Linked DNA regions of Homo sapiens. The protein of the gene in region 1 purifies or fractionates together with the protein of each later gene. This does not show direct contact. Each region holds a gene or a part of one and is shown in the gene's direction. Other genes may lie near its edges.

Region 1 (8,217 bases):
CTGTATAACCTTGGGCAAATGACTTAAGTTCACTGCATCTCAGTTTCCCCATCTGTGAAATGGGGACAACAGTAACTGCTTCCTCAGGGTGGTGTGAGAATTGAACCAGATGGAAGCTCTTAGCTGGATTGCTGGCACCTGTTAAGTCCTTAATATATGTTATATTCAAACAGAGCTTTGTCTTGTTTCTTTCACGTACTACTTTTCTAGTTTTTTTCGTTGTTGTTTTATTTTTGGTTTTTAAAATTCTTCCAAAAAGATTCACAAGTGCAGAGAGAGGAATAAATACAGATTAGGATTTTATTTATTTATTTATTTATTATTATTATACTGTAAGTTTTAGGGTACATGTGCACAATGTGCAGGTTAGTTACATATGTATACATGTGCCATGCTGGTGCGCTGCACCCACTAACTCGTCATCTAGCATTAGGTATATCTCCCAATGCTATCCCTCCCCCCTCCCCCCACCCCACTACAGTCCCCAGAGTGTGATGTTCCCCTTCCTGTGTTCATGTGTTCTCATTGTTCAATTCCCACCTATGAGTGAGAATATGCGGTGTTGGGTTTTTTTGTTCTTGCGATAGTTTACTGAGAATGATGATTTCCAATTTCATCCATGTCCTTACAGAGGACATGAACTCATCATTTTTATGGCTGCATAGTATTCCATGGTGTATATGTGCCACATTTTCTTAATCCAGTCTATCATTGTTGGACATTTGGGTTGGTTCCAAGTCTTTGCTATTGTGAATAATGCCGCTATAAACATACGTGTGCATGTATCTTTATAGCAGCATGATTTATAGTCCTTTGGGTATATACCCAGTAATGGGATGGCTGGGTCAAATGGTATTTCTAGTTCTAGATCCCTGAGGAATCGCCACACAGACTTCCACAATGGTTGAACTAGTTTACAGTCCCACCAACAGTGTAAAAGTGTTCCTATTTCTCCACATCCTCTCCGGCACCTATTGTTTCTTGACTTTTTAATGATTGCCATTCTAACTGGTGTGAGATGGTATCTCATTGTGGTTTTGATTTGCATTTCTCTGATGGCCAGTGATGGTGAGCATTTTTTCATGTGTTTTTTGGCTGCATAAATGTCTTCTTTTGAGAAGTGTCTGTTCATGTCCTTCGCCCACTTTTTGATGGGGTTGTTTGCTTTTTTCTTGTAAATTTGTTTGAGTTCATTGTAGATTCTGGATATTAGCCCTTTGTCAGATGAGTAGGTTGTGAAAATTTTCTCCCATTTTGTAGGTTGCCTGTTCACTCTGATGGTAGTTTCTTTTGCTGTGCAGAAGCTCTTGAGTTTAATTAGATCCCATTTGTCAATTTTGGCTTTTGTTGCCATTGCTTTTGGTGTTTTAGACATGAAGTCCTTGCCCATGCCTATGTCCTGAATGGTAATGCCTAGGTTTTCTTCTAGGGTTTTTATGGTTTTAGGTTTAAAGTCTTTAATGGTTTATGTTAAAGTCTTTTATGGTTTAAGTCTTTAATCCATCTTGAATTGATTTTTGTATAAGGTGTAAGGAAGGGATCCAGTTTCAGCTTTCTACCTATGGCTAGCCAGTTTTCCCAGCACCATTTATTAAATAGGGAATCCGTTCCCCATTGCTTGTTTTTCTCAGGTTTGTCAAAGATCAGATAGTTGTAGATATGCAGCATTATTTCTGAGGGCTCTGTTCTGTTCCATTGATCTATATCTCTGTTTTGGTACCAGTACCATGCTGTTTTGGTTACTGTAGCCTTGTAGTATAGCTTGAAGTCAGGTAGTGTGATGCCTCCAGCTTTGTTCTTTTGGCTTAGGACTGACTTGGTGATGCGGGCTCTGTTTTGGTTCCATATGAACTTTAAAGTAGTTTTTTCCAATTCTGTGAAGAAAGTCATTGGTAGCTTGATGGGGATGGCATTGAATCTGTAAATTACCTTGGGCAGTGTGGCCATTTTCATGATATTGATTCTTCCTACCCATGAGCATGGAATGCTCTTCCATTTGTTTGTATCCTCTTTTATTTCCTTGAGCAGTGGTTTGTAGTTCTCCTTGAAGAGGTCCTTCACATCCCTTGTAAGTTGGATTCCTAGGTATTTTATTCTCTTTGAAGCAATTGTGAATGGGAGTTCACTCATGATTTGGCTCTCTGTTTGTCTGTTGTTGGTGTATAAGAATGCAGGCCAAAATCTCCTTAAGCTGATAAGCAACTTCAGCAAAGTCTCAGGATACAAAATCAATGTACAAAAATCACAAGATTAGGATTTTTGCTATGGCATGGAGAAGCCTCTGGAACCAGGTACCTAGAGTTTCCCAGCCGGGTTTGTTTCTTTGCTAAGCTTTAGACTCGCAGGTCAGTAGAGAGAGAAACCGCTCAGCCTTGTCCCTGGGGCTGTTTGGGTTCCTCCTGCATTTTGTTCCACTTGAAATGAGGACATCTCAGAATCTGGCAGCGTGGAAATCGCCTCCAGGGGAAGTGGATGTTTATTTACCATTTTGCCTCACAGATTTCCTCTCCTGTGTAGACACTTGCCTTTTTCAAAACTGAGATGCCTGGTGGCTGGTGGGTTTGGTTGATTGATGGGAAGCAATTATTTGCCAGCCAGTGGAAGCAGGTGAGCTGATGGGCGGGGACTTGCTGAGGTGAGGTGAGGGGCCCGGGTCGGTTCTGCCTCCCCTACCCTGGGCAAGTCCTCACTCAGGTGGGAATTTGATCCTGAGAGTAGGAATGAGATAATGTCGCTCTGTGCTTTGAGGCATTTTTGATCTTCCTTAATGAGTTCTGTGAAACCCTGTCTCTAAAAAGCAGGTGAATTCATACAGGTGTGGGTTCATAGCTGCGTGAAAGAAAACCGGACTTCCCATGTATGGGTGGCAATTAAGGCTCTCCAAGGAGCTGATGCCTGGAATCCCTCCTAGTGGCTGTGGCCTCGGGCTGGGGTTAAGGCCTCCTCTGGTGCCTGCTGCATACATGGGAACAGAAAGGATTCCTGCCTGTGCACCTGGGGCATTCAAACCCACTGTCCCTCAGAGGCCCACAGCCCAAGGCTCGCAAGTTAGAAAGCAGCAAGTTAAGCTACATCCAATCTCATGAGAATCAATTCTTTTTTCTACTCTTTGTCTTTTTCTGGATAAGCATCTCTTAAGAAATTAGGTTCAGAATCTTCTAAAAAGCCAAGCTCTACAAGGGTTTTGGAAGAATTAGAACTCAAAGGGACAGAGGGCATGGAAGCACAGAAGAAAAAATACAGGGGAGGCTGGATTAGATAGAAATAGTGGGGAAGGGCAGACCAGGGGATCAAAAGTGAAGTGGGCTGTGTTGTATTTTTCCTATTTCCAAAGAAATTGGCATTTTAGAGTAATTTACACCCAATTCTCCTCTCGTGGTGTAGAGAAGCCAAAATAATTGTTGAAAATAAATTACACCTCCCTAAAATGGAAGGGGAGGAGTTGCAAATAACAGTCACAGTCATAAGTTTACTGGGACATGGTTGTAAATAATCAGGCAGATGCAGGTCGTGAGTCTAAGTCACTGAGAACTCCTGCCCTTGGAGCACCCGGAGGCTGCACCCATCTCATGGTGAGCACGTGGTGTGGGCGCCTAAACTTCATCACAGACAGTGAGGCTCTTCATCCCAAGAGCATGTTACAGAAAGTTTTTATATCAGTAAGATTGACATTTTAAAGGGTTTCCTGAATAAAAATGGGGAAAATTATGAATTGCACTATTATGAATTCCAGCATGATAAGTTTTAAAGGGACATTTATTTCTACAAAACAGAATAAAACAGAATAAAAGTTTTGTAGAAATAAATGTCCCTTTAAAACGTTACAAAGGCAGAAAGGAAAGAAAGTTCTAGAAAGCTCCTGGGAGGTTCAAATGGTTTCACAGAACAGGGAGAGATGAACACTTGCTCAGAGAATGTGACATGTTCCAGAGAGCAAGTGCTGCGTGAACTGAACCCCTGGCCTGTGGCTGCTCTGGTAGGAGAGGGAGATGGAACTGGCTGCTGAGGGGTCTCGTGAGGGCGCCTGCCTGCCTGCAAGTGGGGGGATATGCAGCCACAGCAGCTCTTTCCATTTTCTTCTAATTTAATGTATTTTCAACTTGATTCTTGTGTCTCTGCCCTCCCCCACCCCAAAAGGAAGGAATAAACTGTATTTGTGTCTAGATTTTGTCTCCTTTAGTTTTAATAAATAAGCAACTAGCAAAAGTGAAGTAAATAATTTCCCAAATGAAATAAATGTGTAGGTTGTTTTCTGTTCTCCAGAAATGCTAAGCCATCTACAGTACGTATCCAGTGCTGGAAAGCTCAGGAGACTTCCAGAATTCTGCACTGCCAAATTAACACTTAGGTTAAATGAGATGACACCCCTTCTTTTATAAACAGAGTACCCATCCGTTAATTTCAGATGCTAATGTCAGAAAAGTTGGTATGTTTGAGTCTTTTACCCTTCAAAACCATTTTGGGGGAAATTTTAACACACTGAGAGAGAAGAACTATTTGAAGCAAATAAATTGCAACCCAATGATTTTAGGCTTTCAAATCAGCATAGGTCAATCAAAACTAAACCCCAAAGATGATGTTTGTTTATTTTTTGCTTTTTGAGCGTATCTAGTACCGATGGTTCGTATTTTAACTTAATCATCCACGGTTTTTGTGGGGAGTGGGAAGCTGAGCTGGGGCAGGCTCTGCACGTTCTGCAGCTTCGTTTGTCCCCATGTTACCTTTGTAGGCGGACTGACCAGCTGCTGAGCCTTTAAGGGTTTGAAAGATGTGGGAAATGAGTCAGGGTCGCAGCAGTAGCCCAGCCTATGTCCTCCATGGCGCCCAGGACTAGAAACGCCTCCTCCTCCTCTTCCAGGATCCCGGCCCTGGCTTCTGACTTGACTTGCTAAGCACAGGCCGGCACCAGCCCGTTCGCCTCCCGGCAGCAGGGAGGGGAGGAATGTGAGGGAGAGTAAGTCTGCGGGGCCCAGCGGGTCGGGGCAGGCCAGTGCTGGGTGGGGGCCGTGACTGGCCTGCGCTTTCCCCTGGGCGCACCCCATTCTCGCACAGTCAGCCTAGCCCGTGCGGCTCCCTCCCTCTCCCTCCAGGATAAGCCTCTTCCTGCATCTCTTCACCAAAGTCCCAGGGCCCTCTCCTTAGAATCTGAGAAATCATGGCTCTCCAAGGCTGGGGAGCAGCAGGAGCGTGGGGAGCGTGCATGGGGGCTTGTGCAGATGAGCGCCTGGCTCCATCCACCCAAACCAGCAAGGTACAAGCCAACGTGAGCTCTCCAACCGGTGTTTCAAGTACCTGCAGCCTTGACCGTACCCAATACAGTGCTAACTGAGATCTGTGGTCTAACAGTGACATAAGTGACAGGTTTACCTGAGATCTGACATTTTTAATTCTTGGAAAATGCATTCAAACGTTGTACACAAATAACCTTGTACACCCATGGTTGGAGGAAACACTTGGTGACATTAGGACTTACTGTGATAGCCAACAAATCAGTGTGTGAACGCAGGCCAACCGGAGGGTCCCATGAGATGCACCAGCAGAGGTGGCATGCAAGGTCTGAGGGACCTGGCACTTTTTTTTTTTTTTTGAGACGGAGTCTCGCTCTGTTGCCCAGGCCGGAGTACAGTGGCGCGATCTCAGCCCACTGCAACCTCTGCCTCCCGGGTTCAAGCGATTCTTCTGCCTCAGCCTCCTGAGTAGCTGAGATTACAGGCACCTGCCACGCCACCTGACTGATTTTTGGTATTTTTAGTAGAGACGGGGTTTCACCATGTTGGCTAGGCTGCTCTTGAACTCTCAACCTCAGGTGATCTACCCGCCTTGGCCTCCCAAAGTGCTGGGATTACAGGCATGAGCTACCGGGCCCAGCCAGGACCAGCACTTTTTGGCATTCGAACCCCCAGGAGCCAGCGTGGACAGTGCGTAATGGGGAGGGTCGCTTCTCCAGTGCCAGCAGGCCCTTACACATGCCCCAGCTCTGTCTTGTCTTCACAGGGAGGGAAGAGTGTAGCTTATCTGACCCCAGGGTGAAACTCTCTGAATGCATTTCTGAGTTTGAATATAACTAAGAATGTTTTTTTCTGAGATTGTGGATTCTTGTCTTCATACAATTCCAGGTATGTTAAGCTACTGCGACAGATACAGCGAAGGCATAAAACATGTCCTACAGACTTTTGGACCCATTCCAGAGTTTTCCAGGGCCACTGCTGAGAAGGTTAACCAGGTATGTAACTTCTCTGCAACTCACTGCAGAGAAGCATGTTGGCTACCTGGAGCACTTGCTGCCCCTCACCTCTGCAGCGGGTGGGCCTGCCTCTGCAGCTGGAATCTTTACCCTTGATCTTGGTGGTTCCTCATTCATAACTTTGTTCATACTTCCATCGTGTCACCAGGACACCTTAAGGACAGGGTGACCAGTGAACTGGTAGCTCATTGTGACTTGTCTCTGAGGGACTGAGGTCTTTCAAGATTTGGAAAGCTGCTGTTCATTGAGGGTTTATTGCTTTTGTCTTTGAAAGCAGTTTCTGCACAGTTTGCATAAACAAGAGCAATAATTACACTCTTGATAAATTATTTCCTCTTTATTGTCCTTTTTTTTCCTTCTCCTTCTTGCAGGACATGTGCATGAAGGTCCCTGATGACCCGGAGCACTTAGCTGCCAGGAGGCAGTGGAGGGACGAGTGCCTCATGAGACTCGCCAAGTTGAAGAGTCAAGTGCAGCCCCAGTGAATTTCTTGTAATGCAGCTTCCACTCCTCTCATTGGAGGCCCTATTTGGGAACACTGCAAGCCCTTAATCAGCCCTCTGTGACATAGGTAGCAGCCCACGGAGATCCTAAGCTGGCTGTCTTGTGTGCAGCCTGAGTGGGGTGGTGCAGGCCGGTAGTCTGCCCGTCACTTTGGATCATAGCCCTGGGCCTGGCGGCACAGCAGCACTTGCGTTCTCGGGGCTGTCGATTTCCTGCCACCTGGGCAGATAACCTGGAGATTTTCACCTTTTCTTTTCAGCTTGATTGCATTTGACTATATTTTACAGCCAGTGATTGTAGTTTCATGTTAATATGTGGCAAAATATTTTTGTAATTATTTTCTAATCCCTTTCTGAGTACTCTGGGGCCCTGCATTTATGAGGCACCTACCTTCATTTTGCTAACGCTTATTCTGAATAAAAGTTTTTGATTCCTTAAAGACATCTTTTCTCTTTTGGTTTTTTATGAGAAACACAGCATTTGATCCTGATGACCGGCATATTTTAGGGTGACCATGACGCATAAGTCATAAGCAGATACTTTTTTCCAGGCCCTTTGTCCATCACTCAGCAGAAATCCAGAAATGTGGGCTTTTCCCAGAGTAGGTTCCATGGTACCCTGAGGCTCTATGGTCAGATGATGTTTGGGAAACATCACTGACTGCCCAGCCCTTAGACACCCCATGTCTGTAGCAAATTAAAGGCACCAAAGTTCTACACTAAAGTACCTGTTTGATCCAACACTCAATTATTGTCTTTGATGTGGTCTTTTCCTAGATCTAGTCCCAAAACACTCTGGGAGTACCATTACATGCCCCACCACCCACAAGGCCATGCACACCACAGTGGCCAGATGCCACCAGTGGGCTCCCCTGACACTTCCCAGCCTTGCAGCTTCTGGTGCCCAGCTTCGTCCAGCAGGGAGCTGCCTTTCCTTGGGGCCAGGGCTGTGGAGGTGTTGGATGCAGTGCCCCGGTCAGGAGCCGTGTGGAAGTGGTCATCGTGGCTAACCTGTGCTCACAGACTTCTGCATCACACTCATTTATTCTCACAGCATGCACTGAGTGGCTGTGATGTGCCAGGCGTCCCACAGGTGGCCCCTGCCCTTCAGAAGGTCACCATAAAAGAACATAAATTGAGAATAAAACAGGACTGGTGCTCCAGAGGAATCCAACACAGGAGAGCCTGGCCAGCTGCCTGCCCCATGTGCCCTGGAAGGTCTTGAGGAGGTGGCCAACCTGAGGGGGCTGGGGTAACAGGTGGAGTCAGCCAGCCCTTCTGGGAGAAGGAGAGCATAGGGAAGGGCTGGAGTGCTCTGGAAATGAGGAGCTGCCCACCCTGACCAAAAAGGAGCCCTGGAGGGGACCCTGAGTGGAGCCAGGTAGGGAAGAATCCAGGGGCTGTGCCAATGGCTGGGCCTTCACCTAGAGCCAAGCGTTCCTCAGGCAAGGAGTTGCCCCAATCAGGTCA
Region 2 (8,217 bases), on another chromosome or scaffold:
TTCCCAATTACTTTCCATGTCAAGTCGTGCATTTTGCTAGAGGGTCCTCCTGACCCTCCTCCCCATCAGGCTTGCAACATTTAAATTTATACTTTTAGGTTGAGCTGAAAACTCTATTTTTCTACCCGAAGATCCTTCCCAAATGCTCCCTTATTCTATGAACTCCCTAGTTTTCTCCTTTAAATGCACAGCTCCAGGTTCATCTCAACCAGGATGTCTTATTAGGCTAGCCCACTGTATTCCAATCAGGCTAGCATCTGCTGTAACTCTCCATTCATGCCAGCTAGTATTTACTGAGTACTTGCTATAGGCCACATGTCCACATGTCTTTATAGGTGTTATCATGTTTAATCTCTACAACATGTGAGGTTGGAATTTTCATCTCATTTAAAGATGAAGAAATTGAGATTTAATGAGGTGACATAAGTTACCTAAGATTACAAAATGAGTAAGTGGGGCTGGGTCAGATGATGCAGGAATTGGAGAGGCACTGTGGGACATTGGTTTACAGTGAGGTGGGTGCAGGGTTGTCAGAGGACAATTTGCAGGATTCCTCTGTATCTCTGCAATGGAATCTGACAGTGTGTCTTCTGACAGTGTATCTCTTTTATAAAAAGAGGCAGGTGGAGAGAGAACCATCCTACAGTAGAATAGACTGCCTGCAAATGAGTGAGCTCCCAGCCCTGGAGTGTTCAAGCAGGGGCTAGATGGCCATCTATAAGGAATTCTTGCCCTGATGGGCCAGATGGACTGCATGACAAGGTCTAGAGTCCTTTCCAATTCTGAGTTTCTGGTGATTTCATAATTATATTTATTACATGTCTAGGACAGTGCCATGCACTGTGGGTCCACAAATATGTAGAACATGGCCATTGCTTTCAAATTGTGTATGACTATAATTAAAGGGGCAAGGCAAGATAATATCTAACACAATGTAAAGAAGACTGTATAAGTCAGAGCTAAACTGAAATGTACAGATTCTAAGTACATTAAGAGTTTAGATTGGGGCAAATCAGACATATATGATATATTTTAGGAAGGCAAATTTCAAGATATTCAGAGAAAATGAATTTTTATATCTAAGAGGAAGAATGTTCAGGCTTGGCTCAAATGAGACATTCAGAAATGATTTTGTGATAATTCAACCCAAAATGACCCTTATGAAGAAGAGGTCACACAGGAATCACTTTGATGAGCTCATATGTGTACAAGGCAGAAAGGAAGCCACATACCAAGGATGACTTTAGATGAGAGGTGCAGACACTGCTCCAACATCTAATAATCCACCATAGCAATCCACAAGTGTCAGGCGCTTTGGATAGACTGGCTTGTGCACCCCGTGAGTAGGAGGCTACCTCTCTATCCTTGTTTTGTAGGTGAGAATGAAAGCTCAGATAGGAGATCAGCTTTTCTGGCCCCACGTCCCCCCTACTTTTTATTCCGCCATGCTGCTTCTCAAAATGTGAAATGTGCCAAGGCTCAGAGGAAGAAAGCGTAAGAAACAAGGAAGGCCCAGGTCTGTTACCACATAATGGTGAGGAAGCTGAAAAACTCAGGGCTTCAGTTTGCCCAGCTGGAAAGAGTGTGATAATCATCCTTGTTCCAGCTTCTTTATCAGCCAGCTCTGTGACTAGGAGCAAACAACTTGCCTCTCTGTACTTTAGTTTCCTCATTGGTAAAATCGGGGCAGTGGTGCCTGTCCTGTCTACTACATTATGTTTTCGTAAGGATCAAATAAGATAATGTAAGTTTACACTCTTTTTTTTTTTTGAGACAGAGTCTCGCTCTGTTGCCAGGCTGGAGTGCAGTGGCGCAATCTCGGCTCACTGCAAGCTCCGCCTCCCAGGTTCAAGCCATTCTCCTGCCTCAGCCTCCCGAGTAGGTGGGACTACAGGTGTGCACCACCACGCCCAGCTAATTTCTGTATTTTTAGTAGAGATACAGTTTCACCATGTTGGCCAGGATGGTCTCCATCTCTTGACCTCGTGATCTGCCTGCCTCGGCCTCCCAAAATGCTAAGATTATAGGCGTGAGCCACCATGTCTGGCCAAGTTTACACTCTTTAACAATTCTTAAATATTGAATAACTGTGAAGAGTTTTTATTAAAGGAAGCGTCAGGTCAACAGAGCCATATTAAAAGCTTTCTGAATTCTTCATGTAATGCCTTAAGTAGGTAATAATACCTTTTTTTGACATATGCCAACAATGATAATGGCAGCCACATAGCATAATGGTTAAAACATGGGCTTCAGGCCAGATTGCCTGGGTTTGAGGCCGGATGCAGTGGCTCACACTTAAAATCCCAGCACTTTGGGAGGCTGAGGCAGATGGATCACTTGAGGTCAGGAGTTCGAGACCAGCCTGGCCAACATGGTAAAACCCTGTCTTTACCAAAAATACAAAAATGACCTGGGTGTGGTGGCAGGCACCTGTCATCCCAGCTACTCAGGAGGCTAAGGCAGGAGAATCGATTGAAACTGGGAGGCAGAGGTTGCTGTGAGCCAAGATCCTGCTACTGCACTCCAGCCTGGGTGACAGAGCAAGACTCCACCTCAAAAAAAACAAAAACAAAAACAAAAAAACAGATTGCCTTGGTTTGAATCCTGGCTCCATTTCCATTCAGTAGCACTTTATTTTCAGGCAAGTTATTTAACTTCTCTGTACCATAGTTTTCTCATCTGTGAAACAGGTATACAGTTGTTTTGAGGTTAACATGAGTTAATACATGTAAAGCATTTAAGCTGTACCTGGCATACACAATAATAAATGTGTTCAATAAATGTTAGTCACTGTTATTAAAGTATGAAGGATAACAGATTTGACATACTTGGCAGTAATTCAAGGGAGCAGAAGGCAGCATAGCGCGTTAATTACAAGCACAGACTCTAGAGTCAGACCTGAGTTGAAATCCTGGCCCTTGCACTTGCTAGTTGTGTGACATCAGGCAAACTACTTGACCTCTCTGAGCCATGGTATCCTCATCTACAAAACAGAGTAATAATTCCTACCTCACAGAATTATTGTGGAGATGAAATAAAATAATGCATTTTAAGAGCTCAGCAGGTGCTGTCTGGAATAAGAGTTCGAAGTACTGTCATTGAGAGTGTACTTCCAAGTTACTGACAAAAGCTTGATTTTTAGATTACTGGTATAAACCAAAAATAAAATTCAGAGGCCCCCCAACCATCTGAATGGATTTCCTTCTCAACCAGGGCTCTTTTAAAATTTAACCTGAGAGACTGTTTCAGGCCATGATGGGAAATGGGGGTCAAACATGCCTCAGTATACCTCTCTGGCATTAACATCAACACAGACTTTAAGTATGATAAGAAACATTTTACAAACTCTCCTCTCTAAAGCCTAGTACCTCAAGGCTTCCTCTGCAAACAGTAACTTGGGTTGCCACAATCCTTTATCTTAACCCAGGCATTCCTTTCTGTTGAACCTAGGTTTTTTGTTTTTTTTTTTTCTGAGACAGAGTCTCACTCTGTCGCCCAGGCTGGAGTGTAGTGGCGCGATCTCAGCTCACTGCAAGCTCCACCTTCCGGGTTCACGCCATTCTCCTGCCTCATCCTCCCGTGTAGCTGGGACTATAGGTGCCCGCCATCATGCTTGGCTAATTTTTTGTAGAGACGGGGTTTCACCGTGTTAGCCAGGATGGTCTCAGTCTCCTGACCTCATGATCCACCCACCTCGGCCTCCCAAAGTGCTGGGATTACAGGCATGAGCCACCGCGCCCGGCCGACCCTAGGTCCTTAGATAAGCTCAACCAATTGTCAGAAAAATTTTAAATCAACCTATAAGCTAGAAGCCCCCTGCTTCAAGTTGTTCCATCTTTCTGGACCAAACCAATGCATTTCTTAAATGTATTTGATTGAAGTCTCATGTTTCACTAAAATGTGTCAAACCGAGCTGCACCCTGACCACCTTGGGCACATGTTCTCAGGACCACCTGAGGGCTGTGTCATGGGCTGTGGTCACTCATATTTGGCTCAGAATAAATCTCTTCAGATATTTTACAGAGTTTGATTTTTTGTTGACACTGGCAAGTTTATCCCATGCTAAACTTTTACTATGGGTTGGGTTTTGTTTTTTTGTTGTTGTTGTTTGTTTTTTGTGTGTTTTGTTTTGAGTAACTTCAGTAGTAACCTTAACAATAGTCTGTTTTGACAGGTTTTTGACACATTCTTACTATAGTCACCTGAACCAATGAAATCCTCTGCCTGGGGCATTTGAAAAATCTTTGTAATATGGCTCTAGCCCATTTTTCTAGCCTCATTTCTCCATGTTCTAGCAACATCTTGCACATAGCCAGATGTTTCAGTCAAATTAAATTATTTTGATTACTTGTGTTGGCAAGAAGAGTCAAACTGCAAAATATTTTAAGAGATTTATTCTGAGCCTAATATGAGTGACCACAGCCAGTGACACAGCCCTCAGGAGGTCCACAGAACATGTGCCCACGGTGGTTGGGGTGCAGTTTGGGGAGGCATGAGACATCAATCAGATACATTTAAGAAATACATTGGTTTGATCCAGAAAGGCAGGACAACTCAAAGTGAGGGCTTCCAGGCTATAGGTAAATTTAAACATTTTCTGGCTGACAATTGGCTGAGTTTGTTTAAAGACCTGGGATCAACAGAAAGGAATGTCTGGGTTAAGATAAAGGATTGTGGAGACCCATGTTCTTATTTGCAGAGGAAGCCTTCGGGTACTAGGCTTCAGAAAGAATAGGTTGTAAAATGTTTCTTCTCACCCTGCAAAACAGAGTCTTGCTGTCACCCAGGCTGGAGTGCAGTGGTGCAATCTCGGCTCACTGCAACCTCTGTCTCCCGGGTTCAAGCAATTCTCCTGCCTCAGCCTCCCTAGTAGCTGGGATTACAGGCGCCCGCCACCACACCTGGCTAATTTTTGTATTTTTAGTTGAGACAGGGTTTCACCATGTTGGTCAGGCTGGCCTCAAACTCCTGACCTCGTGATCCGCCCGCCTCGGCCTCCCAAAACGCTGGGATTACAGGCATGAGCACCGCACCCAGCCTAAAATGTTTATCATACTTAAAGTCTGTGTTGATATTAATGCCGGAGAGGTACAATGAGGCATGTCAGAGGCCCACTTCCCGTCATGGCCTGAAACAGTCTCTCAGGTTAAATTTTAAAAGAGCCCTGGTTGAGGAGGAAGTCCATTCAGACGGTTGGGGGGGCTTACAATTTTATTTTTGTTTTACACTTGTTATTTCTCACTTTCATGTCTTTGCTTGTTTTATTTTCTTTGCCTGAAATGTCCTTTACCCAGTGTCCTCCTCCATGTTTCAAAAGCCCTACCTTTTTCAAATATCTTCTTCATTAATCTTTTTCTGATCCTCTCCTTGAATTAAAATGCTGTTGAAGCGGCGTCATTGTCTGGGGTAAATATCCGAGATTTGTTGTCTCAACAGCAATGGAAAACTAGGATACGGACACACCAGAGTGAGGTTACGAGTAGAAGTTTAACAGGCGAAAGAAAGAGAAGAGCTCACTGCAGCTGACAGCGTTCTCGAAAAAATGAGTTGCCACCTCTGTGGTGAAATGCAGGTTTTATAGATAAGCTTGAGGAGGTGGTGTCTGATTTACATAGGGCACAAAAGATTGATTGGATTGGTGTTTCATTTGCATAACTTTCGAAAAACTGGTTAGGGCTAGGTGTGTCATTTGCATTGGGTGCGAAAAGCTGGCCACCCCCACCCTAATCTTTTATTATGCAGTTGGGTTATTTACGTGGCCAGCGCCATGTTGCCCGTTTCTTTACTGTACACGTGGTGACAAATTAAAGGGAGGACAGAACCTCCATGTTGAACATACTTGGCCCCCAGGTAGCCTTTTTCTATTGGCACAGCTGCCGGCATTCACCAGTGCAAGCTTCCAGCTTGCCTTTTTATTTATTTATTTATTTTTTTTTTTTGAGACGGAGTCTTCCTCCGTCGCCCAGACTGGAGTGCAGTGGCATGATCTTGGCTCACTGCAACCTCTGCCTCCCAGGTTCTAGTGATTCTCCTGCCTCAGCCTCTCGAGTAGCTGGGATTACAGGCGCTCACCACCCACCACCATGCCCAGCTAATTTTTGTATTTTTGGTAGAGACAAGGTTTCACTATGTTGGCCAGGCTGGTCTCGAACTCCTGACCTCAAGTCTTCCTCCTGCCTTGGCCTCCCAGAGTGCTGGGATTACAGGCATGAGCCGCTGCGCCAGGCCTCAGCTTGCCTATCTATGTTTGCAGCTCGATTTTTCAGGCTGCTCTTTGTTAGAAAAAAATAATTTCTTGGGCTGCTTTTTATTAAAAGGGAAGTTCTGCCGAAGACTCTTTTACCTTCACTATCTGGCTAAATAATTTCTTTCTAGCTCCTGTATCACTGCGTCTTCCTCCTTCGAATCCTGTTTTCATGTGTCTCTTAAAGCCTTTATCAGAGTACTGTTCTGTATTTCATCCAATCTAATAGGTCATTGATTATAAAATACCATTGTTTTGTGTATCAATAAGAAAGCAAAAAATGCTGCCAGTTACACTGAAACATCATCAATTATAAGACACAACCTTAGAGGTGAGAAAATGTGAAAAAAAAATGTAAGCTTTAGAATTGATGACATATGGTAGTTCTTTGTGAAAGTGTCTGTTTCACACCTTCTCACTGGATAGTAATTTCCCTGAGGGGAGGGAGGGATTATGATCTGTTCATATCTGTTGGTGCCTGGCACCTAAGAGGGACTCAGTAAGTATCTGTGGATTTACTGGCCCTTAACACATTCTCTCATGTTGTCTAGCCTTTATGATATTATTAGAAGAGTTAATACCCTCAACAGTTGACCCTTTGAATAATTTCTTGTGTCTGGCTTCTGGACAAGAGGAAATCAGGACAAAGAGCTAACTACTGAGTGGATCATGATTGAATGGGCTGCTGTGGTGTGGCGGTTGAATGGAATTTGCAACAAATGCAATTCGTAGTTATTCTTTTTCTCCTCAGTACACACACAGTGTTTCTTAATGGCAATAAAGTTTACTTTCCTGGCCATTAGCAGACTTCATCATTTTGGTTCCTAATTGTCTTTTTCCCTTGTCTTCTGTTCAGTATAAATGACATCGCATTTAAGCCTGATGGAACTCAACTGATTTTGGCTGCCGGAAGCAGATTACTGGTAGGATTTTGTCTTAGTTTCCTCTTAAAGTGCTTCCCTAACCTCCCTCTTGTGAGTACTCTGAAATTTGACCCTTTTTTTTTTTTTTTGAGATTAAAAAGGCAAGGGTGGAAAAACCTTCCCTATTACTTTTTAATAGGGATGGAAATGGGCTATTTAAAACGGGCAAGTAAACTATCAGATAAGAACCTGTGAACAATACCACCTTTGGGGTCATTCATCTTTCCCTTTTTACTTTGAGACACCCATGAAAGAGTTGAAAACAATCACAATGCCTTTGAAACTGGACTGGTGTCAGTTTACATTTTGTCCCCCAGAAAAATTCAAGCAACAGGACTGACGGTGCTGTGTCCATGAAAAGTCAGATAGCCTGACCCCAACTTTTAGGCATTGGCCTATCTAAACAGTTCCATATGGATGTTGTCCTATTTTTCATATTTTCAAATAACATAAGCTCCCTCTGGAACCTATCCAGGTATATAAAAGTAATTTTCAGAGAACCCCTTATGTTTGACCAAAAAACCTTTGTATGATCTCTCTTTCTGTCTAAGTCTACTTCCTCTTCTCTGTTGTCTCTAGATACGCAGACTGATTAATCTCCATTCTTTGTATGGTTAACTACATAATCTTAAAACATGGTTAAATTGTTCTGCAGACTTCTCTCCAGTGTAAACAATCCAAACTCTATTAGTTTTTCTACATAGGTTATCTTTTCCAATACTCTAACCATTTCAGAAAGTTTCCGCTTGATTTCTCAGATGGTGTGTGTGTGTGTGTTTTTTTTTTTTTTTTTTTTTTTTGGAGACAGAGTCTGGCTCTGTCGCCCAGGCTGGAGTGCAGTGACGCGATCTCGGCTTACTGCAAGCTCCACCTCCCGGGTTCACACCATTCTCCTGCCTCAGCCTCCTGAGTAGCTGGGACTACAGGCGCCTGCCGCTACGCTCAGCTAATTTTTTGTATTTTTAGTAGAGACGGGGTTTCTCCGTGTTAGCCAGGATGGTCTCGATCTCCTGACCTCGTAATCCACCCACCTCGGCCTCCCAAAGTGCT
Region 3 (8,217 bases), on another chromosome or scaffold:
AGTGTCAAGGTGTTATATATATGCTATGATATGGTAAATTATGGGGTAAAGGAGAATAGAGGGAACTAAAAGAAAAATAAAACAAGTGGTGATTTTTTTCTCCTTTTCCAATTTTTTAGAATTTTCTATTATGGTTTTAATGAAAATAGAGATTTTTATAAGAAAATTTTTGGTGTTACAGAAATTTAGCTCTCCCTGTGTAAGTGAGAACCATATGACTATCACTAAATAAATGTGTCTCATTTTCTAGCTTCAAATCTAAACTGTCATCTCTTGTTCTTTCCTTCCAAAGCATTGACCAGTTTGTATTTACTGAGCATATTCAAATTTTGCACTTAGAAAGTCATTGATGTATTCAGATTTTCAAATTACTGTTTTACTGTGCACACTAATCTATAATGATCTCGATGGCTTGTTCTCTATTTTCATATTCTTTCTGTCATTTTAGTTGGTATTTAGCTGTATGAGTGTACACCAGTAGACACAGTCAGCAAAGGTAGACTCGTTATGAAAATAACATTGTGCATAATGGCTAGTAGCATAAAACACTGGCCTCTTTTGTTTTTTGAGACAGAGTCTTGCTCTTGTCGCCCAGGCTGGAGTGCAATGGTGCGTTGTAGGCTCACTGCAACCTCCGCCTCCCAGGTTCAAGCGATTCTCCTGCCTCAGCCTCCCAAGTAGCTGAGACTCCAAGTGCCCGCCACCAAACCTGGCTAATTTTTTTGTATTTTTAGTAGCGACGGGGTTTCACCATGTTGTCCAGGCTGGTCTCGAACTCCTGACCTCAGGTGATCCATCTGCCTTGGCCTTCCAAAATGCTGGGATTACAGGCGTGAGCCACCACGCCTGGCCAAACATTGGTCTCTTTATTTGCCTGATACTAAGATCTCATTGTAGATTCTTGCCCCTTATAAAAAATTATTTTAGGACTCAGGTATATTGCTAAATATCAAAAATTGTTTACAAAAGGACATTATTACATAAAGTCCTATTTTCCATAGTTAGCGCATGGTATCCATTGTTGAACTAAAGAATGTGTATTACCCCCTCCCTTCCTTCCCCCAAGAGAAAACATACCAGTGGGATTTAATTACACTTTCTGTTTAATGTGCAGGCAGTGATGAACAACTTGGAAAATTAGTCTACAATGCTTTGGAAACAGCCACTGGTGGCTTTGTCTTGTTGTATGAGTGGGTCCTTCAGTGGCAGAAAAAAATGGGTCCATTCCTTACCAGTCAAGAAAAAGAGAAGATTGATAAGTGCAAAAAGCAGGTAAGCATCCAAGGTGGCTGACTGAGCAAAAGGCCTAATCTCAGGCTTTAGGAGATGACAGAACAAAATAGCCCTGCATTTGTTTGCCCTGCAGAGATGGTCCAGAGCAGTATGAGAACTGTTTGACCAGGGAGGACAGTGAAGGACCAGTACCTCTTTGCCCCTTGCCTCTGGTTTCAGAACTTTCACAACATGATCAAAGCACTTCCAGCTGCCTTCTTAACCTCCTTTCTTAGCCCTTAGTATGGCATTAACAGTCATCTTTCCAACTGGGACTAAATACTAGTTCATAATTGGGTTTTTTTGCAATTCTTCTTTTCCCTACTCTTGAAATATTGCTTCAGGGCTGGGTGTAGTGACTCATACCTGTAATCCCAGCACTTTGGGAGGCCAAGGTAGGAGGACTACTTGAGCCCAGGAGGTTGAGACCAGTCTGGGCAACATGGTGAAACCCTGTCTCTACAAAAAATTTAAAAATCTGTGGGCATGGTGGCACATACTTGTGGTCCCAGCTGCTTGGGAGGCTGAGGTGGGATAATTGCTTGAGCCCGGGAGGCTGAGGTGGGATAATTGCTTGAGCCCAGGAGGTTGAGGCTGCAGTGAGCTGTGTTCATGCCACTGAACTGCAACCTGGGTGATAGAGCAAGACCCTGTCTCCAAAAAAAAAAAAAGAAAAGAAAAATACTGCTTCAAAACTGAATTTTGGGGGACCGGAGGATTTTTAAGTTAATTTATAAATTATGATTTATAACCAAGCATAAGGAGAACATTCAGTATTGCATATTGCAGTGTTACATAATAACAAGGTTTACAAAAACGTAGATAAAGCATGGTGTTCAGAAATGTGTGTGTATTTAAGTATAGAAAGAAAACTGAAAGTAAATGTGCCAAAATCTTGAGTTATCACTGGGTGGTGACCACATAGATAACATGTGGGTATTTTCTATCAAACTAATTTTTTAAATGTTGACAATGATCTTTATTAAATCAGAAAAGATTTTTTTTTTCTGTCTTCAACCTTAACTCCTCTTTGCCATGTGAGGTTCTGAGGATTAGGATGTGGCCATTATTCTGCTGCTCAAATCATATACTATATTTTTAAAAACCCAAATACAAAGCTAATCAGAAAAGGTTATTTTTAAATTAAAGTTTGTTTTTTCTAGTGGCTATACCTCAAAAGAATTTTATTTTAAAAACTGTTCACTAATTTTGTAGTATATGCATAGTAGGTTTTGAGATTAGAGAAGTTGAGAATTAGCTAAATTTTTTCCATCTTTATGAACTATTAGATTGACCATATGGTTTGGGGAGGATTCAGTTTAGGGCATATTTGTTCTCCTCTCATTTGAAAGTATATTTTCTATCAAATACTTCACTTTTGGTTTTGGTTTTGTTTTTTTATGCCCCCATCTTGTATGATCAAATACTTCACTTTTGAAATGAAACCCAAGTTAATGTTGACTGGCCCAATATTCTTTTTTTTTTTTTTTAACTTATCAGATTCAAGGAACAGAAACAGAATTCAACTCACTGGTAAAATTGAGCCATCCAAATGTAGTACGCTACCTTGCAATGAATCTCAAAGAGCAAGACGACTCCATCGTGGTGGACATTTTAGTGGAGCACATTAGTGGGGTCTCTCTTGCTGCACACCTGAGCCACTCAGGCCCCATCCCTGTGCATCAGCTTCGCAGGTACACAGCTCAGCTCCTGTCAGGCCTTGATTATCTGCACAGCAATTCTGTGGTGCATAAGGTCCTGAGTGCATCTAATGTCTTGGTGGATGCAGAAGGCACCGTCAAGATTACGGACTATAGCATTTCTAAGCGCCTCGCAGACATTTGCAAGGAGGATGTGTTTGAGCAAACCCGAGTTCGTTTTAGTGACAATGCTCTGCCTTATAAAACGGGGAAGAAAGGAGATGTTTGGCGTCTTGGCCTTCTGCTGCTGTCCCTCAGCCAAGGACAGGAATGTGGAGAGTACCCTGTGACCATCCCTAGTGACTTACCAGCTGACTTTCAAGATTTTCTAAAGAAGTGAGTATCACTGAGATTCTCTCTAATAGCACTTTACTCCTGTACTTTTGATTGTGCTGGAGTGTGCCAGACATCTAAGTGATGTGGAAGCTGAGAAGTGAGGAACAGGACTTCATTCTTTGCTCTCCCAATCCTGTCCTAGTCTCATATGTTCTGTTTTCTCATGTAGGTTGGTGATTCTCTTAACTACCACATTCTCTGAAATTCACTTGGAATTCACACTTGATTTTCAAACTCCTTTTGGGGGACTGATGGGATACTCTTGGAAGTCAATAGAGATGGTTATGGTGAGAAATGCCCTAGGTATTCCAAATACTGACCTTTGCTCTGGTTCCTAAAGGGTCAAAGACGAGGCTCCTTATTCAAAAACAGCTTTGGGAGTGAGATTCTGCCCCTTGTGCTTCTTAACCATTCTTCATTGGCTGTCTCATTCATTTAAGTTGTAGAATGCAAATAACTTCCTTAGTCTAGCCAGAGGAGTTTCAATACCTGTAAATCACAGGTGCATGTTTAATTACAAAGCCAAGTTTTATCCAATTTGGGAGAACCCTTCTTGAGATGTTTCCTCAGGCCTAAGATGTTTGTCCAGGTCCTTCACTTAAGTGTTTTCTAATTTCGTCCTGCCTCTGTTTTCAGTCCAAGCCAGAGCTAAGTTCTGTCAGTTTCTGTTAAATGGGAGATAAGATCCCTTCAGTCTGGATTTTTCCAGATGCTCCTCTGGTCCAGCTATCCTGCAGGAGTTGACCTGGGCTGGTTTCTTCCCTTTCTGACACTCTTTGTTTTTTACCTTCTTTTTCCCAATCATTTGCTTTTATTCACTTCTTCCATTTGCAACATTTCTTTTACCCTTCACATTTCTTTCCCTATTCCACCTATCGCAGTAGCCAGTTGGCCTGGTTTACATTGTTATGCTCTGTCACTGATGGTCTTACCATTACAGATGTGAAAGTAGCTGCACCTGTGTTTGAGATTGTTTTTGTGTAAAGTGAATATGATATATATATATATATATACACACACATACATACAGTTGTGGAAAGGGGCCAAGTTTGATTCTTTATGTTGGTTTCTCGCCTTGAAGTATATGAAAATATTAAGATTTCTAAAGAAATCTTTTATGGTATCTTTTTAATGCAATGGAGCTTTAAACATATTTATTTAAATGCACCCTAACAATGAGGTTGGCCAAAATGACAAATATGATGATAGAATCACAGATGGAAAGTTTCATTTCCATCTTCAAAATGTCACCTTTAGTGTTCTGCCTTCTTCATTGATGAAGAGTAATTTAGTCAAGGTTAGCAATAGCATCATGTGTTGTTAAAAACAGTACTGGGAGGTTTAAGTAGAAGTACCTTTCCTTTCCCGTTTAGTAGCAAAATGAATGGGCTCGGTAGGTAAAACTTTCCTAGTTCTCTTCTTAAATAGCTGTATGCTCTGTCAGTTTTAAACTTGAGATCAGCACAATTTCTTATTCTTTTTTTTTTTTTTTTTTTTTTGAGATGGAGTCTGGCTGTGTCGCCCAGGCTGGAGTGCAGTGGTACGATCTCAGCTTCCTGCAAGCTCCGCCTCCCAGGTTCACGCCATTCTCCTGCCTCAGCCTCCTGAGTAGCTGGGTCTACAGGCGCCCGCTACTACACCCGGCTAATGTTTTGTATTTTTAGTAGAGACAGGGTTTCACCATGTTAGCCAGGATGGTCTCAATCTCCTGACCTCGTGATCCGCCCACCTCGGCCTCCCAAAGTGCTGGGATTACAGGCGTGAGCCATAGCGCATGGCCTTCTTATTCTTTTAACAAGATTTTTCTTTAGACTATTTTGTATACTTCTCTCCCTGGAGTGGTTTGATAGACTGTGCTTGGTTAAGGAGCTGCCAAGAACTGTTTTTATGAACTTTGCTGTCCAGCCCTGGTTAACAAAAGAAAAATGCCATTCACAAAGAATGAAAACAGCAACCTTCCATTTGTAGTTATATTTTTACATATTAGTGAACACCCTTTGGAGCAAGATTTTGTTTCAAATCAGCCTCTGTGATGGGTAAGACTCTGGAGTCAAAACATCTGGGTTCAGGTCTCACCTCTATGTCCTACTGGCTGAGTGAATTAACCCCCTGCCCTGCGTTTCCTCCTCTGTGAAACTGGGATAATAGCACTGCCTACCTCATGAGGTGGTTGTGAGGATTAAATTAGTTAACAGCCATAAAGTGCCTGGCACTTGGCCCAGACTGAGTCAGTGCTGGTTTTCATCACCATCCTCAGTAGTGAGAACTATGAAGAAATGTGGGTGTTGCCAGGCATTTTATCCCTTTTTGTTCAAAGCTGAACCTTTTCTATATACGGCTACCCTGTTGCCAAAATTATTGATTCAGAGAAGTTCATTTTTAAAGTGAGATCTTGGTGGCTATAAATCTCTTAAAAATACTGTGCATTCTAGGTAGGCTGTAACATTTTTCTGATCCAGATTTACTTTCAAGTCAATAACATTTATGTCACAGTTGAGTTACAGTTGATAACGCAATTCAGAAACCCAACAGGGCATATATAGGGATGCTCATTGCAGCATTTTGTGAAAATGTGAAAAATTGGAAATAATCTCAACAGTAGGAGAATGTGTAAATAAATTCTGGTAGGTCCACGCCTATACAGAAGTTTAAAAAAAATCTTTAAGTACTGGCTTAGAAAGAGCTCCAAGACACATGGTGGAATGAAAAAAGCAAGCTGAAGAATAATGTATATAAGATGATATTGCTTAAAAAAATCAAAAAACAATACTATTTTGTTTGGATGGTTGTATGTTTATGTGTATAAATGCATAGAAAAATCTCTACAATGAGACACCCTAAGTGGAAGAAAGAATTGGAAGGGGAGGTTGGTCAAAGGCTTTATCATTATCAGTAATGTTTTAATATTTGCAAGGAGAAGGTATATATGTTTTAATGATATAATTAAAAAGTAATTTTAAATTTAAAGGAAAATACGGTATCTTATACAAATGGTTTTATTAGAATTTTTTTGCCTGTTCAAGCTATGAAATTAGGAGTACCTTGCTTTTTACTGCTGCAACATAAAAAAAAGTTACCATTTATGATAGTTGCTGTCACCACTTTGTATGTATAGATTTTTAAGTCCAGAACTCACAACGACAGTTGATTCTTTTAAGTATATTGTTTTAATTATAGGTCAAGTGCTACCAAGTCGTACTACTTGGGCCGTTGTAATGAAAGTAGCTTGGCATGGTGGTTCATGCCTGTAATCCCAGCATTGCAGGAGGCCTAGGTGAGAGTATCTCTTGAGTCCAGGAGTTCAAGACCTGCCTGGGCAACATAGTAAGACCTCATCTCTACTTTTTTAAGTATTCCAGCACAGCAGGGCGTGATACCTCACACCTGTAATCCCAGCACTTTGGGAGGCTGAGGCAGGCAGATCACTTGAGGTCAGGAGTTCAAGACCAGCCTGGCCAACATGGCAAAACCCCATATCTACTAAAAAGACAAAAATTAGCCATGCATGGTGACACTCACCTGTAATCCCAGCTACTTGAGAGCCTGAAGCAGGAGAATCGCTTGAACCTGGGAGGTAGAGGTTGCAGGTTGCAGTGAGCCAAGATAGTGCCACTGCACTCCAGCCTGGGCAAGAGAGCAAGACTTCGTCTCATAATAAAATAAAATAAAATGAAAATAAATAAACAAAACATTCCAGCATGGTGGTACACGCCTGTAGTCCCAGTTACTCAGGAGGCTGAGGCAAGAGGATGCTTTGAGTCTAGGAGTTCGAGGCTGCCATGAGTGATGATCGCAACACTGCTTTCCAGCTTGGGTGACAGAGCAAAACCTTATCTCAAAAAAAAAAATTAAAATTAAAAAAAAAGGCCAGCTTAAATCAGTTACAGTTTAACTACTTAGACTTTAACTTAGACTTTAGCTTGCATTGAAATCATTTGGAGCTCTTGTTAAAGCACAGATCACTGTCCAAACCTCCAGAGATGCTGATTTACTAGGTCAGGGGTATAGTAGAATTTGTATTTCTAACATTTTTTAGGGGATACTGATGCTACTGGCCAGGGACCCCACTTTGAGAAGCCCTGGGTTAAAGGTATGGCTTGTTTTTCTTCATTAAAAAACAAAACAAGAATTGTCTATTACACCATTAAACAGTAAGTTAATGGGTTCAAGGAATGAAGATTAAAAGAAAGTATATGAGGCCGGGCACGGTGGCTCACGCCTGTAATCCCAGCACTTTGGGAGGCCGAGACAGGCAGATTGTTTGAGCTCAGGAGTTGGAGACCAGCCTGGGCAGTGTGGTGAAACCCTATCTCTACAAAAAATATAAAAATTAGCCAGGCCTGGTGGTGCCTGCCTGTAGTCCCAGCTACTGAGATGGGAGGATTGCTTGAGCCCGGGAGGCAGAAGTTGGAATGAGCTGAGATCACACCACTGCACTGCAGCCTGGGCGATACGGCAAGACCCTATTTCAAAAAAAAAAAAAAAGCATAAACCAATTTTTAAAAAAAGTATGCAATAGAATATGGGACTTTAAAAAAGCCTTCCCTAAATGTTTCCAACTTGCTTCATCCTGTAATGAGCAGGCTTCATCTAAAGCTCGTCATACTGAGCCACTCTGCTGCACCAACTCTCTGATTTGCTTTGTCTTTCGAAAGCTTTATTTATAACCGGTTCCTGCAAAGGCTTAGTTTGGCATGACAAGGCATTAAACTGTTCATCGAGGTGAAAATTTATAGCCTACTTGTGCTACCTTAGACTTTTAAAAAATTGTTCCATGAGGGTAAGTCTTCTCATCTAGAGATGCCTTTTTTTGATTCGCCTCTTGTACCCAGCCTGTCGCATAGCATGTAAATCCTGCAGGAATGTTTATTAATTTAAATTCACCTATGAGAGTACATTCTGGTCTTTG
Region 4 (5,798 bases), on another chromosome or scaffold:
CTTTTTCATGGAACATGACTTTTACTTGAAAGAGTAACTGACAGAAAACCAATTATTCTGACTTGTGTTTGTAGCAGACATTTTCTTGAAAATGAAGAAGTGGGTCTGTGACTTCAGGAAAATGTCTGACAGTATCTGTTGCCAAAGAAAATGTGAGTTTTCAAGCCAACAATAGAAATCTAGAAAACTTGTATTCACCTCCATGGGCTTGATGACCTCTTAGTACTTAGACCTTTCTGACGAGATAAGCGGTGGCATTAACAAATGTGATGTTTTTCATGTTATCTAAATACATTTGTCAACATTTGGAAGATCTGCACAACTCCCTGGACCAGGATTTTCCAAATGATTGTTGCTTTTTGTTACAAAATCAGGGAATAGATAGAAGATTCATTCAAATAATGAAAGATAGACTGATGGATTTTTATGTAACAGAATAGGAAAAGTTTATGACATGTTTTCAGATTCCACCTTGCAACTAATTTTTAAGAAGCTACCACTTGTCAGCCAGGCACAGTGGCTCACGCCTATAATCCCAACACTTTGGGAGTCCAAGGTGGGCAGATCACTTGAGGTCAGGAGTTCAAGCCTGGCCAACATGGTGAAAGACTTCTCTACTAAAACTACAAAAATTAGCTGGGCATGGTGGTGGGTACCTGTAATCCCAGCTACTCTGGAGGCTGAGGCAGGAGAATTGCCTGAGCCTGGGAGGCAGAGGTTGCAGTGAGCCAAGATCGCGCCACTGCACACCAGCCTGGGCAACAAGTGCGAAACTCTGTCTCAAAAAAAAAAAAAGAAAGAAAAGAAACTATCACTTATCAAGTTTGGGTGTAGTATCAAAGAAGATCAAGAGTTACCTGAAAAGAGTATTGCAGTAACTTCTCTCGTTTCCAAGTACGTGGAAAATCTATATGTAAGCTGGATTTTTTAATGTATACTTTAACCAGAGCAGGTTGGGACAGCAGACTTAATACAGAAGCAGATACAAGTCCAGCTGTCTTCCATTAAACCAGACATTAAAGAGTTTTCTAAAAAATGTAAACAGTGCCACTCTTCTCACTAACATTTTTTTGTTTTCAAAAAGTCTTTATTTCCCATTAAAAATACAGGTTTCTTATGTTAGCCTGTCACAGGCTTATTGTTATTTCAAGTGAATAAAAAAATAAAGTTTTGCTTAATTTTTAATTTTAATTTTTGATACAGTATCAATAGATAAAACCTACATTGGGATCTTCAGCATTTGGGAGTGTGAAGGGGGCCCTAAGTCTAAAATATTTTTGAACCACTGCTTCATTCTAACTCAGTCACAAAATGGAATTAGGGGAAATCATACAGGGTTTGTTGTGGGGCAGCTACTAATACTCTCACCTCAGCAAGAGCAGTCCCTGCTGTAAGGGACTAGGAAGCTTGCCTACAGGAAGACAGCCAGGACATCTCCTAAAATGTATCAATGCTTTCGACGAGAAATATATGAGTGGATTTAGTGCCCATCTTCTGGAGAGACTTTTTAAACTGTTTTTAAACTGGTACATTTTCATTAGGTTGCTTCTGTTCATGTTTATTTCTTGTGTGGCCTCTTTTCAAGGGAGTGATCTGTTTCCATCTGAGAATCTTCAATATCATCTAGTAACTCTTAATATTTAGGAAACTACAACCCAGAGAGGGGAAGTAACCCAGCAAGTTAGGGTCACAGCTGGAGTTAGAGCCTGGTGTTTGGCCTTCAATTGTGTCCTATTAAGGATTTGTGTCTCTGGAGCCTGTGTTACTCATCTTTTGTTATCACCTATCTCTACCAAAGATATTTAAAGGTTCCCGTGAGAAGGAAAGATTTCAAGAGGAAAGAACATAGCTCTTTTATTTGGAAGCACTTGTTCCAGAGTGGCCTTCAGGAGACACCTTCACCTTCTCTAATGTGTTTCCCGCAGAGCCCTCCATGAATCTAGTGATTTTTTTTCCAGATTATAGAAAACTTTAGGAAATATAGAGAAAAGTAGAAAAAAGAAAATGAATATCACTTATCATCCTTCCATCTAATGGAGGATGGGAATTTTTGGTGGGAGGCGTGGGAATTTTGCAGAGACCTGCATAACACACACTTTTTTCCCTCAAATTGTTAATCATACTGCATATACAGGTTTGTGTCTTGCTTTATTTTATTCAACATTATGTTGTGAACCTTTCCTATGACACTAAAAATTCTGAAACTTTTGTTTGGTATACATGAAACATACTTGTAACATATACATTCCATTATACTTCATAATCTATTTAACTGTTGTTTTGTTGGAAACGTATTTACAATGAGAGTGCATTTATCAAATGCACATTTGTGTTTCTCCCAACTTAAAATCATTGCCACCCAACCCCTGCTAGAACAGATCCCATGTTTTTCACATGGCCACAAGATCCTCTCTGCAGCCCACCTCACCCTCACCCCCATCTGTTTCCCACCTATTCCTTTACGCTCCTTTTTGGGAAGCCTCGAGTCCATTTTTACCAACACTCATTTTCCCCACCTTGAGTGTCTTCTGTCCTTCTCCCCATTCCCTTTCTGCTCTTATCCATCATTATTATTTTTTTATTATTATTATTATTTTTGAGATGGAGTCTCACTTTATCACCCAGCTGTAGTGCAGCAGTGGCTTGATCTTGGCTCAGTGCAACCTCTGCCACCCAGGTTCAAGCGATTCTCCTGCCTCAGCCTCCTGAGTAGCTGAGATTACAGGCATCTGCCACCATGCCCACCTAATTTTTTTTTTTTTTTTTTGGTGTGTGTGGTTTTAGTAGAGACGGGCTTTCACCATCTTGGCCAGGCTGCTCTTGAACTCCTGACCTCGTGATCCACCCACCTCAGCCTCCCAAAGTGCTGGGTTTACAGGCTTCAGCCACTGCACCCAGCGCTCCTATCTATTCTTAAGACCCAACTTACCTATAATTTCCTCTCTGGAGCCTTTCCGAACCTCCTTCCACCAGACCAAGTTTCTTCTCCTCTAGAACATTTTATAGGTGTGACCATTTTAGTACTTTTCCATAATTTCACTTGTGTTTCCAAACACAATAGTAACGCTGTTCATTATCTTATATTGAAACAGTCCATTTTTGCATGTAGAGCAGAAAGTAGAAGTTCAGCTCTCCTTCATTTATCTCACTCCTTTCCCCCCTTTATCCCACTTCTTTCCACATGTAAGCACTATTAGGATTTTATTGTGTTTGTATTTATCTCCCCTTCCAGATTGTGAGCCCCGGGCTAGGGTTTTCTGTGCTGGAGTATCTAACGGGGCCCAGGGCCTTTCTGAGAGGGATGAGCTCCTGGAGAGTGGGAGGTATAGGGAGGGATGATGAGAGGAGATCTCATGACTCTGCACCCTGGTAACCTCCCCGATTTCTGTCCTTTCACTGGTGCCATTTCTAAGGATTTATGAGCAGCTTCCAGAAGTACAGAAAAAGAGAGAAGAAGAGAAGAGAAAATCAGAATATAAGTCATACCGGCTGCGAGCCCAGCTATATAAAAAGGTCAGTGGGTCCTCTGTCTAGAGTGGGATGGATCAGGTTTATTGGCGGAAAGAGAAATGGAGAAAACACGTTGCCTGTTGAGTGTGAAGTCAGAATGAACCGCATTTGAGGAATGAACTTAGAATGCACTGGACCAGTGTTGAAATTTGGAAGAAGGCATCTGTAATTAGACTTCAAATCAGGTTTAACTCCCCATCCATAATGGTGTAAGGCCCTTTCCATGCATTCGTTTGCAGTGAAACCAAATTTCACACACAGGAGTTCATTGACATATCATGGTAGAAATACCAGAATTATCAGGTTTCCATTCCAGAGTCCCAGGTGGTGATTTCATGCCCCTCATTGGTGAGTCAGATACCTTTAGAACTGTTAAACTGGAAAATGTGTAACTGCGGCATAAGAGTTGTCCACTTGGATGGTCAGAGGCCTCCAACTTGTCACCATGCCCTGCCCATTGTCCCAGTAGAGTCAGCGTTGCTGCAAGTCCAAGAACCTCACGGGGCAGGGTTGGTGTTACCAGTTAATTCTCTGAGAAACCAGACCGGCTCCTATGCCTGAAGGGCCATATACTTCACTGTAGTTGTTTCCTTCTCACCCTGTCAGTCACCAGACTGATGTGGGATGGGAGCTGCTTCTGGAGCAGGCCCCAGAACCCAGGCGGGTGCCTCAGGTGGAGGCCCCAGGCACCACACCACCTGTCTGGTGTGTCAGCATCGCAGGGCCAGGCCTCTCCTTATGCTACTGTATGTGGGAACTGATGGATTATCTGTGTCTCTATAGAAATAATAGATATTGATTACAGATCCTCTTTCCTGAACCTTTCGTGAAGTATTTTTTATATGACGACCATAGTTTCTGAAGCAGAGTAAAATGAACAAGATTTGAATAGGACCACACTGATTCTCCTTGGTGACATGGATGCAGGGAGGAGAGGCATCTGCCTCTGATGGCAGTAATATCTAACTTCTTTCCTGCCTTTCTTTTCTTCTACAGAGAGTGACCAATCAACTTCTGGGGAGAAAAGTTCCCTGGGACTGACACAAGTTTATTTTCCTCAGAGCCTTGGAATTCTATTTTATGAACCTAGAGAAGCAGAATCCTTACTTTTGTGAGTCTGGTTGAATAAAGCTTATTCTTTGTCCATGTGTATTTTAGAAATAGTAACTTCTAAAGAGTCTGGAACAAAGTGGTGATTAAAATTCCTAATGGTTTGGGAGCAATACTTTCTGCATAGTGGCCTTGTCCAATGGCCTGTGTGTTACAATGATATGATCATTTCTCAAGAATAAGTCCCTTTTTGTATGTGTTTTTATACTTTTAGAAAATAAAAACTTTAGATTAACTCATAGTAAACAATTCTTTCCCATCTGGAGAGATGCAAGGAGCTATGCATTGTCTCCACCGAGGTGTCTAAATGCATCAGTTGAGGGAAATGGGCTCTTAGAAGGAAATGTAGCCTGTATCTTTAGAAACACAATGTGCTGTAGTGGGAGCACTGTTGTGGGCTTTGAGGAGACGGTGTCTGGTTAGATGCCCACCGGGTGCACCCAGAGACTGCAGCAGGAGAGGTGTCTTGGGTCCAGAGCCTCCTTTCAGCCCCAGTCCAGCTCCCCCAGGGACTCTCTGTGTAGGCTGGGGAGAAAGGCCACTAGCCTTGGCTGATGGATCTTCCTCCACCCACACTCGGTTTTGGGATTAAAGCCTCAGACCATTTATCATTACACGTGAAACCAACACTTACAACATAAAGGACAACTTGTGAAAAAGATGAGTCAATGAATGAGATAAAGCATTTAACCCAGTAACTGGATCAGAATGTAACAGGATTTTTTTTTTTTTTTTCATGTGGCCTGGAATTATAGCTAAGGCCCAAAGTAATGGAGGAAGGTTTTCAACAGCCTCACTCTAAGTTCAGCAAACCCCAGTACAAAGATTGGCAAGGGCCAGTCATCCACCGAGAAGGCTTCCTGGGAGGCTGGATCCAAGAGCAGGCCCTGCCCTCAAGCACGGTTCAGAGCTTTCAGATCCTGCCCCCTGGGCTCCCTGCCATGAAGAGGACACTGGGAAAAGAACCCATGGTGCATGAGGTCAACTCATAGTTCTTCCCTTTCTTGCTGGGCAAGGTAATGAAGCACTTTTGGCCAATTTACCTGTAAAATGAGAGGGTTAATACCTCTAAGCCCCTCTTTACATAAACTCTAAAACAATGTGACTATTTCCACCTCTTGTGAGACATTATTATTCAGAATAGAAACAAATTGTTGTCTCAAACCTGGGTCTGCAAA

What was found.
Region 2: the proteins of CRYL1 (region 1) and IFT122 purify together in Homo sapiens (affinity purification with mass spectrometry; 2 studies listed by BioGRID and IntAct, with this or other methods). This does not show direct contact.
Region 3: the proteins of CRYL1 (region 1) and EIF2AK4 purify together in Homo sapiens (affinity purification with mass spectrometry; 2 studies listed by BioGRID and IntAct, with this or other methods). This does not show direct contact.
Region 4: the proteins of CRYL1 (region 1) and ALMS1 purify together in Homo sapiens (affinity purification with mass spectrometry; 2 studies listed by BioGRID and IntAct, with this or other methods). This does not show direct contact.

The regions. Positions count from the first base shown.
Region 1 is NC_000013.11:20,402,641-20,410,857, reverse strand, and holds the end of CRYL1 (lambda-crystallin homolog), read left to right. Parts: intron 1-6,116; coding exon 6,117-6,223; intron 6,224-6,615; coding exon 6,616-6,729; 3' UTR 6,730-7,189; downstream 7,190-8,217. UniProt on the Homo sapiens protein: Has high L-gulonate 3-dehydrogenase activity. It also exhibits low dehydrogenase activity toward L-3-hydroxybutyrate (HBA) and L-threonate.
Region 2 is NC_000003.12:129,442,771-129,450,987, forward strand, and holds part of IFT122 (intraflagellar transport protein 122 homolog), read left to right. Parts: intron 1-7,100; coding exon 7,101-7,167; intron 7,168-8,217. UniProt on the Homo sapiens protein: As a component of the IFT complex A (IFT-A), a complex required for retrograde ciliary transport and entry into cilia of G protein-coupled receptors (GPCRs), it is required in ciliogenesis and ciliary protein trafficking.
Region 3 is NC_000015.10:39,964,572-39,972,788, forward strand, and holds part of EIF2AK4 (eIF-2-alpha kinase GCN2), read left to right. Parts: intron 1-1,114; coding exon 1,115-1,272; intron 1,273-2,772; coding exon 2,773-3,308; intron 3,309-8,217. UniProt on the Homo sapiens protein: Metabolic-stress sensing protein kinase that phosphorylates the alpha subunit of eukaryotic translation initiation factor 2 (EIF2S1/eIF-2-alpha) in response to low amino acid availability.
Region 4 is NC_000002.12:73,605,062-73,610,859, forward strand, and holds the end of ALMS1 (centrosome-associated protein ALMS1), read left to right. Parts: intron 1-3,413; coding exon 3,414-3,513; intron 3,514-4,506; coding exon 4,507-4,551; 3' UTR 4,552-4,855; downstream 4,856-5,798. UniProt on the Homo sapiens protein: Involved in PCM1-dependent intracellular transport. Required, directly or indirectly, for the localization of NCAPD2 to the proximal ends of centrioles.